Linked DNA regions of Homo sapiens. The protein of the gene in region 1 purifies or fractionates together with the protein of each later gene. This does not show direct contact. Each region holds a gene or a part of one and is shown on either strand. Other genes may lie near its edges.

Region 1 (2,439 bases):
ATGCAGGTTTGTCTGTTCTCCAGTTCAGTAGTTTGCTTTTTTTTTTTTTTTTTTTTTTTTTGAGGTGGAGTCTCACTGTCACCAGGCTGGAGTGCAGTGATGTGATCTCGGCTCACTGCAACCTCCACCTTCCGGGTTCAAGTGATTCTCCTGCGTCAGCCTTCCGAGAAGCTGGGACTACAGGCACGATGCCCAACTAATTTTTGTATTTTTAGTAGAGACCGGGTTCACCATGTTGTCAAGGATGGTGTCGACCTCTTGACCTCCAAAAGTGTTGGGATTGCAGGCGTGAGCCACCGCGCCTGGCCTTGCCTTTTTTCTTAAAACCGAACTGTATCTCTGCTGGGGGCAGTGGTTCACTCCCTACATGACAGTCAGCTCCTCTCACCCAGCATGTCCTTTGATATCCCCATCACTCCCCAGTTGAGGGTCTCATCCACACTCAGTCTAGGCTTTGGTTAGCCTCCATAGAATCAGATAGTCACCAACCACACAGCATATGAACTTCATCCACAAAAGACCACAATTTGCTTTATCAAGTCTGATCACTGCAACAAGTCTTTTTCTAACAAAAAATCTCCTTGAGAGCAAATCACTAAATGTTCAGTAATAGAGAAGACACTAAGTAAATACATTGCCGAATAAAGATGTCTTCGTTTACCCTCTCACAAAGTACAATCCTTCTTAGTATTTCTTCTGAGAGTGATAAAGTCAGCTTGTGTCTTGTGTTATAAAGGAATGTTTTAACTTCAATTAAGAAACTTTCCCCAAGGGTCAAGAAAGTAACAAAAATATTTAGTCCATTAATCGAATTGTAATTTTGTATCTTCCACACAGTACATTGTAATTATTACATCAGTTATCAAATGCACATTTGTCTGTTCTCCAAGTTCAGTAGTTAGCCTTTTTCTTAAAACTGAACTCTATCTATGGAAAGGCTTTCCATTCATAGACAACTTGAATTTAGCTGGATGTATTACAGACTGTATGAAGCAACTCTTGTACCACTGGGGGCCCACCCTCCGCCTGAGACTGTGGAACATGATTTATGGGGGTGGGGGTGCATGAATGGCACACAAATGATGAGTAATTACTAGTGAGAGTAATTCTAGTATGTAGAATGAAAACAGGAATGGTTAAATCATTTTGAAGAGAATGAAGAAGTAAATTAACAATGCATTGCAAATACATTAGATTTTAATCTTTAATATCTAACATTATTGCTTTAGGAAAGTATTTCCCTGAACCAAGAATACAATGCTAATTGCATAAAAACATACACATATAAAAAGTAGTTCTCCATTTTCCCAGGAAAAAATCCAAGTATAACTTCTAGAATAGTCAAGTTTCTTATTTTTATTATAATTAAAGTCTTGGTCATTTCATTTATTAGCTCTGCAACTTACATATTTAAATTAAAGAAACGTTATTAGACAACTGTTACAATTTATAAATGTAAGGTGCCATTATTGAGTAAATATATTCCTCCAAGAGTGGATGTGTCCCTTCTCCCACCAACTAATGAAGCAGCAACATTAGTTTAATTTTATTAGTAGATGATACACTGCTGCAAACGCTAATTCTCTTCTCCATCCCCATGTTGATTTTGTGTATATGTGTGAGTTGGTTAGAATGCATCAACAATCTAACAATCAACAGCAAGATGAGCTAGGCTTGGGCTTTCGGTGAAGATTGACTGTGTCTGTCTGAATCAAATGATCTGACCTATCCTCGGTAGCAAGAACTCTTCGAACCGCTTCCTCAAAGGCTGCTGCCACATTTGTGGCATCTTTTGCACTTGTTTCAAAATAAGGATAGTCGCCGTTGTCCCTGCACCAAGCTTGGGCTTCTTCTGTAGACACCTGCCGTTCGCTTATGTCAATCTTGTTACCCAGAATCACAAAAGGAAAGCTCTCAGGCTCTTTCACATCTGCATAATATATGAATTCTTTCTTCCAGTTACTTAAGTTCTGGAAGCTTTGTGAATCATCGACACTAAAAGTAAGCAGGCAGCAGTCAGAACCTCTGTAAAATGGTGTCCTCAGGCTTCGGAATCGCTCCTGACCTGCCGTGTCCCAAATCTGCATGGTAACAAAATGTCCATCCACTTCCAAATCTTTATTTAAAAATTCCACACCTATTGTATGGAAGAGCTGGGTATCAAACTTATTAGTTACATATCTGTTCATAAGTGAACTCTTCCCAACTCCACCATCTCCAAGGAGAATTACTTTAAAAAGTGATGATTTTCCTGCCATTGTTAATCTCAAAAGCTTCAAGAACCCTGTAAAATAAAAAGGCACCATTACATTCCTTTATACCTACACATTCTTCTACATGATTCTACGAATATCAGCATTTAGCTGAAATAAAACATATGGCCCCAGGGAATACCTAATAATAAGACTTGTTGTTTACTGAGCACTTAGCCATGTGCAG
Region 2 (3,500 bases), about 72 Mb from region 1:
CACAGCCACTGTGGATAACAACATGACAGTACCTAGTAGACTTGAAGCTTTAAGAGCAAGGATTAGACTTTCATTATTTCACAGAGGAAAAAAAATATCGCTGCACTTCTCATTGTAACTTTATAAATAAATTATCAATAGTATATTCCAATTTTGGATAACATTTTCAGACCAATGGACTTAAAGTATATAGCTCTGACACTAAAATGGCATATTCAATTTTTAACAGACAATGAAGTAACTGGCCCCAGATCACATAATGAAATAGGTCAAAGCCAAGAATAGAAACCATGCCTTTTCTGAATCCAGTATTTTTCCCCATATACCATCTAGCCTTTTTTTTTCAAACGAAATAGTTCAAGATTCTATGCAAAAGCAATCCTGGAAAATGATAAAATATATAGTATTTTTACTTATGAGAAAAAATAATGGAATCATGAAAACAGATTATCATCTATGAAGAGCCAGTTGACAGTAGTATTTAAATAATAAGAATAAAAATTAAAATCTAGCATGCCACTTCAGCAATGAAAATATCTGCACTGTAGCCACATGGGGCTATGGGAGCCCTTGAAATACAGCTAATAAGACTGAGAAACTGAATTTATTTTATTTTATTTCACTTTAATTAATTTAAATTTAAATAGCTAAATGTTACTAATGGCTAACCTATTGATAGTGCAGAGTTAGAATGCATTTTAAAACAGTAATAAGTGGCTCACTAAATCAGAGCAAGCATATTAAAATAGTAAGAAATGTCAAATAATTGGAGAGCACTACTTAATGAAAAAAATACCTTTATATTCATCAGGATATTTCTCATATTCCATACAAAATGTAAGAAATTTCATTAGCATTCGCTTTTCTACCATAGTAAGTTGTTTGCTATTAAAGACATCTGCTCTGGAACACGGAACCTGAAAAATATTATGATTTTAAGTTAAGAAACTGCTTCCTAATGATATAACTATTCCAAATTACACTTTTTTCCCCTTTACATATAACAGGATTATCGTTTCCACTCTAGCCAGGCTTTTTCACATCACCGTCCATCAGTACTAATGGCATCTCTGCTAACTTCAGAGCTAATTGTGAGCTTTCTTACTTAATTCTGCCAAGTTACTCCCCATGCCATTAAAAGGCCAACGGCATGTCATCCTAACAGAGAAAAATTTAGCAGTGCTATCTAAAACAAACACTGTGGTTCTCCCTATGTACATGTTAGTACATTTTTATGCCTTTTCTCCAATTAATCTGCCTTTGTGAGTTGATTTTTCAGTGAAACTTCAGAGGCTTAAGAGGGAGTGTTTCCCTTGGCCCCTACAGTTTTGGTGCTGTGAGCAGGATAGCAAAGCTCTGCTCTTCTGGAAGCTGCAGTGAAGAACCCAGGATCTGATCAGCTGTCATAAGGGTAAGAATTTTTTCCCAACCAGGCTCCGGGCCTCCTCCTCTGTGTGGAATCTGATCAAGTGGACAGCAAAAATCACCGTTTCTTTCTTTTCCCTCTCCAAAATCTTGATTAATGGGAGAAAAGGATTTGTGTGACTAGTCTTGGGTATAGTAACTCTGGTGTGCTTTTTGGTTTTTTGTGTGCTGCTTGGTACCAACACCAAGCTGCAGAGTAAGCCATGAGAAAATTAGCACTAGAAATTTTAATTAAGCATTTACATTTGTAAATCACCACGGAGGACTGGAATTTACTGCTTTATGAGGAAAATAACAATCTTATTTGCTTATCTTTCCAAAACAAACCATAATAACTTAAGCTGATGCCCAGTTACAATTCTTGATCAGCACAGTACCTGTTCCACTCGTCCTTCTCGAAATGCAAGAATCCTGGTAATATTTTTAAACTCTGCATATCGACTAACATTAGATTTGATTAGAAGATCAATTAGTAATCCTCGAGAATACAGCAGCTGTACAAAGAAAATATTTTACAAGATAAAAGTTGAAATAGTAGAAAAATTGGAAAACAATAAAGATACATAATTTTGCTATATTTTTTATTATTTGTAGAAACAATCATACCTATAAATATTATAATACATAACACAATCTATTACAGGCTCAGAATTGATTAGCTGAAATTCAAAATTCAAAAAACTTTGCAATCCATAAGTTTTTACAAAACATGTTTAGCAGCAAAACCTGATCCATACTGATAAGGCACTCTGGCTTTGTTTGTCCAAATTAACATAAATATTCATATATTTCACTGCAGAAATAATGTGTTTAGTTAGAGTTCCTCCTCAGACCCTGCTAATAATTTAACCTAACATATAACATATCAGTATATGTACTTCATTACTTTCTAAAATATATTTTTTTAATCTTAATGATAGAATACACCAGGCCCTGAGGGTTTTGGATAAGAATCTATAGTCTTACACAAAGCCAGGTAGTTATAAGAAGAAATCAGTCCAGTGAACCTCCCTACCCCATCAAAAAAAGAAAAAAATATTTGTGATGCATTTACACTGAAAAAGTCAAATTATAAGGTACTTCTGTAATTCTAGAAGTCTGGGTTTATATGAGATATGTCTTTCTCAAAAAGTGAAGATGATGATTATTGCTGGCATGTATGGGAGAAATTGATTTAATCTTTCAACATCTCATAAGTAATATCAGAGAGATAAAATCAATAATGTAAACAGTATTATCTAGCATGTTAACCGTATGGTTAAATGCAACAGATTTGACTATTTCCTATATTAAGATACTCTTAATGCCTATAACTCAATAAATATTAAAAATGAATGTTACATCTATAATAAATAAATGGGAAAATTAGCTTTACTATACAAAGAAAAAGGAATCTCAAAAATCAATCTAAACCATTAGTCTGAGCAACTAATAAGTCAGTAAAGACTATCAGTAAATCAATACCATTCAAGTAAAATTTTATAAACTAATAGTTCAGCATTCTGCAAAACAAAATTGACATCACTTTTTTGAAGCTAATCTGATCATCCTGATTAAATATGGCACGTTACTTCATTACCCTCTTCCTAACACACTACATTACTGAAAGAGACCATGTTTTAAAGAATATATTGCCAATTCTTAACTCTATAATAATGATAAAAAATAGTTACTTCAAAAATCACTTGTTTAAAAAGATACACATTTGAGACTCAAGGATCCCTGCATAGCCATAATAATGTCACAAACATTAAGATATAAAATATGAAACTGCATTTTTATTTAATAAGATCCAATAAACCTTAAGGTTTAATGCCAGCTTGAAAAATAATGCATTTAAGATATCACAAGAACAAAAACAAATTTCAATTAAAATTATACTAGATTTTTGTTTCTGAAGCTCACAAATAATAAATGTGTACATATCAGAATCTAAGCCTCTTTTTCTTTTTTTTTTATTGAGACAGAGTCTCTCTGCTGCTCAGGCTGGAGTGCAGTGGCTCAATCTCAGCTCACTGCAACCTCTGTCTCCTAGGTTCAAGCGATTCTCCTGCCTCAGCCTCCCGAGTAGCTGG

What was found.
Region 2: the proteins of RAB9A (region 1) and CHM purify together in Homo sapiens (affinity purification with mass spectrometry; 2 studies listed by BioGRID and IntAct, with this or other methods). This does not show direct contact.

Annotation. Positions count from the first base shown.
Region 1 is NC_000023.11:13,708,566-13,711,004, reverse strand, and holds the end of RAB9A (ras-related protein Rab-9A), read right to left. Parts: intron 2,285-2,439; 5' UTR 2,259-2,284; coding exon 1,653-2,258; 3' UTR 501-1,652; downstream 1-500. UniProt on the Homo sapiens protein: The small GTPases Rab are key regulators of intracellular membrane trafficking, from the formation of transport vesicles to their fusion with membranes.
Region 2 is NC_000023.11:85,957,059-85,960,558, forward strand, and holds part of CHM (rab proteins geranylgeranyltransferase component A 1), read right to left. Parts: intron 1,920-3,500; coding exon 1,803-1,919; intron 918-1,802; coding exon 797-917; intron 1-796. UniProt on the Homo sapiens protein: Substrate-binding subunit of the Rab geranylgeranyltransferase (GGTase) complex.